Regions from separate parts of the Homo sapiens genome. Here region 2 is linked to region 1. Evidence: fine-mapped expression QTL. A gene starts in region 1. The other region holds a variant in brackets. All regions are shown on one strand. Distances are between the middles of the regions.

Evidence for each region. PIP is the estimated chance that this variant, and not a neighbour inherited with it, causes the effect.
Region 2: its variant is the best candidate, but not a certain one, in a credible set for the expression of VAT1 in whole blood (INTERVAL, PIP 0.58).

Annotation. Positions count from the first base shown.
Region 1 is chr17:43,019,614-43,024,987 of GRCh38, forward strand. VAT1 (vesicle amine transport 1) reads right to left here and starts at 2,772. Exons shown (of 6, transcript NM_006373.4): 1 at 2,323-2,772. The coding sequence starts at 2,709.
Region 2 is chr17:43,340,257-43,345,630 of GRCh38, forward strand. No RefSeq gene overlaps it. Among named protein-coding and RNA genes, the nearest start is that of LINC00910, 46 kb to the right of the region's middle. The variant C/T (reference allele first, on the strand shown) is at 2,032.

The DNA of each region.
Region 1 (5,374 bases):
AAAGGCTTCCCCCCCACCCCCACGAGAGCCTCTGTGCAGGAGGGAAAGGGGACAAAGATAACAGAACCTTTCTCTCCAGCTTAGCAAGTGGGGTCAAGGGAAGGGCAGGGAAAAGGAGGGAGCGTCAGGAGAAAAGACTTCTCTGCGCTCTCTGAAGAGCATGAAGAGGGAGGTGTGGGTGCTGTTCTGGGACAATCTGGGTCTGTCTTGATCCCTGCCAGGAATGATGGGAATTCTGTATATTAACAAGAGTTAGGGTCCATGGGGAAGGGGGATGGGACTGCCACTTACGCCCTTTTTCATGTCCTCAAGCCCCCACACTCCACTGAATACGAGAACTGAGGGCATGCTGGGGTCTTTCCTTCCAAGTTCTGGCCTGAGATGAGGTCTGGAGAACAAGAACGGAAGCCCTCCACCCAGGGACTCAGGACTAGCAGATACAGAACAACCCAGGAGAGCTGCGAGGAGTGCATTGGTCATTTAGGGTCATGGCCAGTCCCAGATTTGACCCAGAACAAGTCTCACTTACCCTGGCTCATGCTAACCCTCAGGCCATCCAAATCAGGGCCATGACCCCTCCCCAACCCAGACACCAGGAAGGAGGAGGAGGGAGAGAGAGGGAAGGGCCCTCCCCGCAGAATCCAGGCTCTTACATCAGATTCTTGCCCTGGACAGGATATCCTGTATTTACCAGGCGGAAAGTGTATGGAGGGGAGGTGAGGTGGGTGGCCTTCAGCAGTAACATGAACTACAACTACCTCCCGAAAATATTCCTCTTAGACGCCTGCTCAAGAGTGGGATCATTTAGAAGTCAGTTTGAGGGTGGGGCCAGAGCTGAATTCAGAGGAAAGCCTTAAGGAGAAGCTGTTTGCATACAGGATGAATCCAACAAACCTGGCTCCAGAATTGGGCTGGCAGGTCTGCAAGAGGCTGCATCTGTGGGGCCTCTCATTGAGGGGTCTGATTTAAAAAGGAAACTCCTGGCCAAGCGCAGTGGCTTATGTCTGTAACCCCAGCACTTAGGGAGGCCGAGGTGGGCAGATCACCTGAGGTCGGGAGTTCGAGACCAGACTGACCGACATGGAGAAACCCATCTCTACTAAAATACAAAATTAGCCAGGCATGGTGGCGCATGCCTGTAATCCCAGCTACTCGAGAGGCTGAGGCAGGAGAATCGCTTGAACCCGGGAGGCAGAGGTTGCGGTGAGCCGAGATCGCGCCATTGCACTCCAGCCTGGGCAACAAGAGCGAAACTCCGTCTAAAAAAAAAAAAAAAAAAAAAGAAAAAGAAAAAAAAAAGAAACCTCTAAACAAATGGCGTGCTGAGGCCTCATCCCAGGTCTCTCAAAAAGCTGATCATTTTGAGCTCTCTGGTGTCCAGGGTTGTGGCCAAGATTAATGATAAATGAGAAGGAGAAACAGGCCTGCAGACTTGGCCAACCAGTTCAAGGCGCCGCACCTCTCCGTTCCAGTCCAAACCCCTGGCACTGGGGTTTCTGAAGTGGGGGTCCTCTGCAGGAGGAAGGCAGAGGTGGGTCCCCCCTTCCACTCCCCGCCCCAGGCATTCCCAAGGGCAGCCCCGGGTCGTGGCCCGAAGGCTGAGGGCTGAGTCACAGGAGGAGGAGATACTGCAGTCACGGGAGACACAGAGCCCAAGACAAAGATCGGATGACCCAATCCCGCCTCCCCCACCCCAAAATCAGATCGGCGGTGTAAGGCTGGTGGCGGTGGGGTAGCAAAGGCTCTCTCTCCTCCGTGATGGGCGTGTCTCGTCTCTTTGGCCTTGCTTTGGGAGGGGCCGCCTCACACCCCCACAGACCACGGGGCTGCATGTGACCAGGACTCTGGCACGGCCGCTGTGCCCCCGCCCAACCCCGACGACATAGCCCCTCAAGCTCCCTCGGGGAAAGGGGGCACTAACCGTCACTCATAGTCACAGACCACAATTACCCAGAGAGTGTTTGGTGGGTAGGGGTACAGGTGTGGTTTTAATGGGGGGGGGGGGGGGGGGTGGGGACGGTAGTGTGGTTGTGCGCATGCGCATGGGCACCTTATTGTTTTCCCCCCCACCAGCACAGCTTCTGGGCGGCGGCCACAACTAAAAATGGTTGGGGAAGGGGCGATAATTTCGTCTCCCCTCCCCACATAAATGCCGCTCTCCAGGAGCCCCCAAACACAAGTTCCTTGGCTACGCTTTCCACGCTCGTGCACCCAGGTCCGCGCCAGTTTCTCCCGCCCTGCCACACCCCCGGCGCTCGCCCACTCGTGCCCCACTGCCCAGTGGCCTGCGCAGCCCTGCCCTGCCCTACGCAACCCGCTCACCTTGCGGTCGCTGACTCCCTCGCCCACTGCGATCACAACACCCGCGCCCTCCATGCCCGGAGTGACAGGCAGAGGCGGGAGACGGTCGTACAGCCCCTGCCTAGCCATGAGGTCTGCGAAGTTGAGCCCGCAGGCCCGCAGACGCAGCGTCAGCTGGCCGGGCCCAGGGGCCGGGGGCGCTGCCGGCCGGCTCTGCAGCTTCACCTTGTCGTAGCCTCCAAAGCCGGTGAGCACTAGGCAGCGCAGCAGTGGCGGCGAGGCGGCGGCGGCGGCGGCCCCTTCGGAGGCCGCGGGATGCTGGGGGTCGCTCGCTGCCTCGGTTTTCGGAGGCGGCGAAGAGGCGTCTTCCCCGGTCGCTGCCTCGGCTACCTCTCTCTCGTCGGACATGGCTGGGACTCCCGACGAGAGCGCACAGCTGGATGGAGAGTGCACAGCTGGGGAAGGCGGAACGCGTCGGGAAGAGCCGCGGCTGCGGGATCCAGCGGGAGGGGCGGGGCGCCGGGCGAGGCGGGGCCTCGCGCTCAGCCTTAAAGGGCCAGGGCCATAGTGGCGCAAGCTGGGAGAGCACGAAAAGGGGCACCAGGAACGTCTGTGCTCTTGGGATCAAGCCGACTGTGATTTATTTATTCATAGTAAACCTTATTCAAATTAAAAACTATTTTAAGGGATAGGCCTGGCGCGGTGGCTCACGCCTGTAATCCCAGCACTTTGGGAGGCCGAGGCTGGTGGATCATTTGAGGTCAGGAGTTCAAGACCAGCCTGGCCAACATGGTGAAACCCCCGTCTTTACTAAAAATAAAAAAGTTAGCCGGGCGGTAGTGGCGCGCGCCTGTAATCTCAGCTACTTGGGAGGCTGAGGCAGAGGAATCGCTTGAGCCTGGGAGGCGGAGGTGAGCCGAGATCGCGCCACTACACTCCAGTCTGGGCAACAGAGTGAGACCCTGTTAAAAAAAAAAAAAAAAAGGGCCGGGCGGCGTGGCTCACGCCTGTAATCCCAACACTTTGGGAGGCCGAGGCGGGTGGGTGGATCACCTGAGGTCAGGAATTCGAGACCAGCCTGACCAGTATGGTGAAACCCCAGCTCTACTAAAACTACAAAAATTAGCCAGGCATGGTGGCAGGTGCCTATAGTCCCAGCTACTAGGGAGGCGGAGGCTGGAGAATTGCTTGAACCCAGGAGGCGGAGGTTGCAGTTAGCCAAGATCATGCCGCTGCACTCCAGCCTGGGCTACAGAGGGAGACTCCATCTCGAAAAAAAAAAAGGCCGGGCGCGGTGTCTCACGCCTGTAATCCCAGCACTTTGGGAGGCCGAGGCGGGCAGATTACGAGGTCAGGAGATTCACCTGGCTAACACGGTGAAACCCCGTCTCTACTAAAAAATACAAAAAATTAGCCAGGCGTGGTGGCAGGCGCCTGTAGTCCCAGCTACCTGGGAGGCTGAGGCAGGAGAATGGCATGAACCCAGGAGGCAGAGCTTGCAGTGAGTCGAGATCGCGCCACTGCACTCCAGCCTGGGCTACAGAGCGAGACTCCGTCTCAAAAAAAAAAAAAAAAAGTTAAGGAACAGTCCCAAAACTTGAACTTACATCAGATTTGGAGTTAACTCATATCAGATTTGGAGTCAGCCACCTGTGGACTGGAGTCCAACTACATTGTGTCTCAGGCTCTGACATCTAACCCAGGCAGGGATGAGACTTAATTCACTGTGGTCTTGCAGTGGCAAAGTAGAAGCATGGAGACCAAGCCTTTAAAACTTTCTGACTTTGGTGTTAACGTTCTGTTCCTCATTTTCCCTTCTGTAACATAGTGATGATGCTGCGTGCTCTAGTTATATTTATATTTTTATTTTTTTGATACAGGGTCTCACTCTGTCACCCAGGCTGAGCGAGGTGGGGCGATCACAGCTCCCTACAGCCTCAAACTCCCGGCTTCAAGCAATCCTCCCACCTCAGCCTCCTGAATAGCTGGGACCACAGGCATGTGTCACCACGCCCGGCTAACTTTATGTTTTACTGCTCTTTGCAGAGCAGGGCTACCCCATAGGCAGCGTGCCTAGAGTGGCCAAACCTAGCTAAGTTTTGATTTTTTTTTCTAGAGAGAGGGTCTCGCTAATGTTGCCCAGGATGGCCTCAAACTCCTGCACGCAAGCAAGCCTTGGCCTCCCAAAGTGCTGAGTTTACAGGCGTGAGCCACCGCGCCCAGCTTCTAGTTATCTTTACAGAATTATTTGCAGCATATATTATTGACTCGAATTGCCTCGATATAAAAAAGCACTTTTTTTTTTTCGAAACTCTATTGCACAAGCTGGAGTGCAGTGAGGCAATCTCGGCTCACTGCAAGCTCCGCCTCCCGGGTTCACGCCATTCTCCTGCCTCAGCCTCCTGAGTAGCTGGGATTACAGGCGCCCACCGTGCGGGTTTCACCGTGTTAGCCAGGATGATAGTCTCGATCTCCTGACCTCTTGATCCGCCCGCCTCGGCCTCCCAAAGTGCTGGTATTACAGGCGTGAGCCACCGCGCCCGGCCTATTGTCAGACTCTTAATCAAGCCTGACTTTTGGGTTTAGCTCTGGCTCCAGCAGAGCAACTCTGGCGGTTGGTTCTTTCTCTTCCTTATCTCCTTGTCCCCAAGCATCCACCAGAGGACGCAGCTCCCCCAAAACTTTCCACCCAGTGCTTGGCTGGAGGAACTCAGTCCACGCTTCTCTGCTAGTCTAGGCCGGCGGTTAAGTCAATGTAACCGGAGACCCGGCTGCCCGTTGCCATGGGGACGGAAAGCTATGATGTCACCACCGTCCGGGTGGGTGTGCTGGGGTTCACCCTCCCATTTCCCCAAGACCCCCTGCCAGGACATAGGCGGACGCGGGAGAGAAAACCAAAGAGGCTCCCTCCTTCCCCTTAGCATCTCTCTCCCGCCGTGTTCAGGAAGTGGATGGCTGCCCCAGCTCTTGTCCGCACTGGTACACCTGCGTGCACGCGTGGGTACACAGCAGGCCCGAGCTTCGCGCTTGTGCCGCTCATATTCTACCCCTAAGAACTTCGCTTGAACTCTGA
Region 2 (5,374 bases), 320 kb after region 1:
ATATTTTGTGTATTGGGAATGATAATTATATTTCCAACCAACAGCATGTAAGGGGGTTTGACACAGCTCCTGATACGTATCACCTGTTCAGACATCAAGGTGATGTTGAATGTGGGTGTTTTGATATTAGTGGGAGAGAGTTGATAGGTAGCACTCCATATCCTTATTCCTGTCATAGCTGCAGCTAATTTCCATAATTCAGGATGTTCTGGGGTAACAATGGGATGAATCATTTTTGGTCTAGAAGGAACAATGCCTGTGTTCATCCATTTGAATGGGTAAGGAGACACCCATTCTCTCAACCTGTAGGACTGCCATCCGTCCTCTAATATTGTAACAAATAATTGAACTCTGAGCATGTCGTATTCTGGCTGGAGCAATCCCGCCAATAATGGCATTACAATTATTCCATAAAATTGAATTCACCAGAAAAGGTCCCTTTGTAGATTCCTTTGGGCAGTCTGGCAGTCCTTTTGTTTTATTGCTGTTAGTAGTGACCAGAACCCACCATTCCTCTTGTGGATTAAGTTTAACAGAAGTTGAAAAGAATTGCTACTGAACACATTATGTACTTGATAAGAATCATTTGTAAAGGACGGTACTGTCCACATCCAATTCTGGTAAGAATAAACTAAACAGCCAGGCGACATCCCAGTGCATAGTGGTGGATATTTATAGCCAATTGACAGATTAAAGTGCATACCTTCTTATTCTGGTTGAGCTGGAAACCTATCATCATTAGGGACCGGCATGAATGCACTATTATTAGTGTAAACTTCTACTGAGGAGTCCATCCAGGAGACAGACTGAATTAAAGGGGGAAAAGAACACATGCCCAGTAGGTATAATTTTGAGTTGCCCAAACTGGTGGTATACTCACCACTGCACTGACTACCATAAAGGCAGCCAGAATTATATTACCTGTCGTTTTGGGGATTCATTTTTCTCTTAATGATTTTTCTGTTGATGGGATAAGACCTTTATTTGACCCCAAGTTGGTGGAGTTAAATGAGTGGTGTTGTAGGTCACACGGCGAGATTTTGTCTCAATGTCGAGGTCATGAAGTTTATGTGTCAGGCGGTGATACTTGCTCTTTGGTTTCAGAGGGGTCTTTGCCTTTTGTTTCTGGGAGTGTTTCTTCTTGGGAGTTATGGTGCAATTTCAGTTGTCGGGAGGGAACCCACACAGGTTGTTGTCCTTTTCCTGGGGAAACACAAGCAAAACCCCTACCCCATGTTACGACAGTGCCTAATTCCCATTTGTTAGTTTTTGCATCCTTCCACCATACGTGCATTCCTTTTTGTGGATCAAATTTATTTCCAGTGAAATGTTGTTCTGCTGTTGTAAAAAGTTGATTTCTTAGTAGGTTTAAGAAATTTCAGTATAAAAGCAGCCAGATTTAACTAACTGAGCATAAGGGGTAGCAGCATCCCTCTGTTTTAGTGTCCTGTTTCCGAAGTTGCTCTTTGAGTGTTTTATTGGCTCGTTCCACCAAGGTCTGTCCTTGAGAGTTATAGGGGATGCCAGTTGTGTGAGTAATTGCCCATGTCTGAGTGAACTTTTTAAAAGCAGCACTAGTGTAGCTGGGGCTGTTGTCAGTTTTTAGTTTCTTGGGACAGCCCATAACCGAGAAACATGAAAGTATGTGTCATTTAACATGAGCCATACTTTCCCCCTGTTTGACAAGTGGCCCAGACAAAATGAGAAAAAGCATCAATAGTTACATGTATAAAAGACAGCTTGCCAAAAGCAGCATAATGAGTCATATCCATTTGCCAGAGAGCATTCTGTGAAAGTCCTCTAGTGTTAACTTCTGAAGAAAGTGGATGTAAAATTAACACTTGACAAGTAGGACAGTGACATACAATGGTTTTAGCTTGTTTCCATGTGAGGGGGAACTTTTTTCAGAGTCCCACAGCATTGACATGAGTTAAAGTATGAAAATTTTCTGCATATGTAAAAACGGGAGCAAGTAATGTATCAGCTCTGGCATTTGCTGCCAAGAGAGGTCTGGGGAGGGTTGTGTGACCC[C/T]GAATATGAGTAATGTAGGAAGGAGAAGACCTTGATCTGAGTATGGACTGAAACCTTTGGAAAAGAAAAAGTAGGTTGTCATCAGGCAGAAATTTGATTCAGGCAGTTTCAATGTTGTGAGCAACATGTACTACATACGCCGAATCAGAAACAATGTTAACTGCTTCAGGGAAATATTCAAGAACAGCCATGATACCAAACAGCTCAGCTCACTGTGCTGAAATAGCTCCTGTGTTAAGAACATGTTCTCTTGGACCCATATATGCTGCTCGGCCATTACAGGAAGCATCAGTAAAAACAGTGGCAGCTTCAGCTAATGGGGTGTTTCTAGTAATGTTAGGCAAAATCCAAGGAGTTTAAGGAACTGAAATAATTTTACATTAGGATAGTGATTATCAGTTATACCCGGGAAACCTGCCAAATGTACTTGCCAAGAGATGCAGGTTGCAAAAGCCTGTTGGACTTGTAATCGGGTGAGGGGAACAATGATTTTTTTGGGCTCTGTACCCAAAAGATGAAGGAGACGAGAACGAGCCTGACCAATTAAGATAGAAATTTGATCTAAGTAAATAGTAAGTGTCCGTAAAGAGCTGTGTGGAAGAAAACACCATTCAATTAAATTATGTCCCTGAATAATGAGTCCTGTTGGTGAATGTTCAGTAGGAAAAATTAGTATTTCAAAAAGTAAATGTGGATTCACTCTGGTAACCTGAGACTGTTCAATGCGTTTTTCTATAAGTTGTAATTCAGAATCCACCTCAGGAGTCAGAGACCTTTTGCTGTGTAAATCAGGATTGCCCCGTAACGTTGCAAAAAGATTAGACATAGCATATGTAGGAATGCCTAAGGAGGGATGAATCCAATTAATATCTCCAAGTAATTTTTGGAAATCATTTAGAGTTTTTAAAGAATCTCATCTGAATTGAACTTTTTTGGGCTTAATAACCTTGTCCTCTAGCTGCATTCCTAAATAGTGATAAGGGGAAGAAGTCTGAATTTTTTCTGGAGCGATAACCAAACCAGCTGCTGCAACTGCTTGTTGTACTGCAGAGAAACAAGATATTAATACAGAGCGTGAAGGTGCTGCACAAAGAATATCATCCATGTAATGAATGACATAACATTGGGGAAACTGATCTCTTACTGGCTTTAGTATGGTCCCCACATAATATTGACAAATAGTAGAGTTATTAAGCATACCTTGAGGTAGGACTTTCCAATGGTAATGTGCTGCAGGAGGGATGTTGTTAAGGGTTGGAACTGTGAAAGCAAATTTTTCAAAGTCCTGAGGGGCCAGAGGAATGTAAAACAAGCAATCTTTAAGGTCAATGATGATAAGTGGCCAATACTTGGGAATCATAGTGGGGGAGGGCAAACCAGGCTGTAATGTCCCCATAGGTTGAAGGACAGCATTTGCTGCCCTAAGATCAGTAAGCATTCTCCACTTACCAGACCTCTTTTGGATAACAAAGGCAGGTGAATTCCAGGGAGAAAAAGAGGGTTTGACCCAATTTTAACTGTTCAAGAACCAAAATATGAAGTGCCTCCAGCTTATTTTTTGGGAGCAGCCACTGATCTACCCAAACCAGTTTCTGAGTTTTCCAAGTCAAAGGGATGGGATCTGGAGACTTGATAGTGACCACTTCTAAAAAGAATAACCAAGTCCTGTAGAATCTGGTTTATGGGTAGGTATAATAGGCTCGGTGATGCCTTGTGCTGATTTTCCCAAGCCCATATCTTGAACAAATCCCATTTTTGTCATAATGTCTTTACTTTGCTGGCTGTAACTGCCTTGTGGAAAAGAAATCTATGTCCCCCATTGATATAAAAGATCTTTTCCCCACAGGTTAACAGGAATGGGTGTAATGAGGGGGCAGATAGTTCCCATTTGTCCTTCAGGGCCCATGCAATGTAAAATTGTGGAGCTTGCATATACTTCTGAAGCGTCACCAACACCAACTAATGCTGTGGACATATGCTCCTTTAGCCAGTGTTGGGGCCATTGATGTAAAGCAATAATAGAAACATCAGCACCCGTATCAATCATTCCCTCAAACTTCCTCCCTTGAATATGCACAGAGCACACAGGATGAGTGTCAGAAATTTTGCTGGCCCAATAAGCCACTTTGCCTTGATAATCTGTGCTACCAAAATCTCTGTTTCTCATACAAGAACTGGATCCTAAAGGAATGTAAGGGAGTATCAGAAGTTGAGCAATGCCGTCCCCAGCTGCCACATTCCAAGGGACTGCAGAGCTAATGACAATATGAATTTCACCTGAATAGTCAGAATCAATTACACCAGTATGTACTTGAGCACCTTTTAAATTTAGACTTGAATGACCAAGTAGCAAACTGACACTGCCAGTCAGTAAGGGACCAAAAACACCTCTAGGAACAGCAATAGGCAGCTATCCAAGCAACAGAGAAATGTCTCTGGTACAAGAGAGATCTATTGCTGCTGAGCCTGCAGTGGCAGGAGACAAACACTGTACTGAGATTCCTGCTGGGGCTGGGCCATTAGATCCTGTGGCACAAATTGCTGAAGTGGGAATTGGGGTGGAGGTTGAATCGATTGGACTGGGAAGGCACCCATCTGGCTGGATGCCAGGGGCTGGGAGTTGAGGAATGCGCCATTGTTTAGAGGGGCCTGGGGCCAGCCCCTCGTTCCATTTCCCTGGTTGTTAAGCGACTGTAAAGGATTACCATCAATATCAAATCTCGAATGGCATTGAGCAGCTCAGTGATTTATCTTTTGGCATCGTGGGCATAAAGTAGAAGGTGGGACTTTCTGTTGTTGAAAAATTTTTTGTTGTTGGTGGTGGTGGGGTTGAAAAGAATGGCAACATGTACACTGGGGACAATTTCTTTTAGCATGTCCTGTCTGGCCGCATATAAAGCATTGGCCAGTGAATTGTCCAGGCGTTCGAATAGAGGCCATGGCTTGTGCCATGATCATTGCTGTGTGCAGAGTTCCTCCCACACCTTCACAGGCTTTAATGTAGGAGGTGAGTATATCACACACACACACACACACACCCATGGAATTTTACCTTTAACAGGGCGAATAGCCACCTGACAATCTGGATTTGCTTGTTCATAAGCCATGAGTTCTACAACAAGTCAATGGCCGTGGCTCAGGGATAGCTTTTTCTGCTGCGTCTTGGAGATGGGCAATAAAGTCTGGGTAGGGTTCATGTTGTCCCTGTCTGACTGCCGCAAACGATGGGCATACTTTGCCATCATCTTGAATCTTTTCCCAAGCATCTAAGCAACATTTCCACAGTTGTTCAATAACCACATCATTTACTATAGTTTGGTTTCTAATTGTAGCCCACTGACCC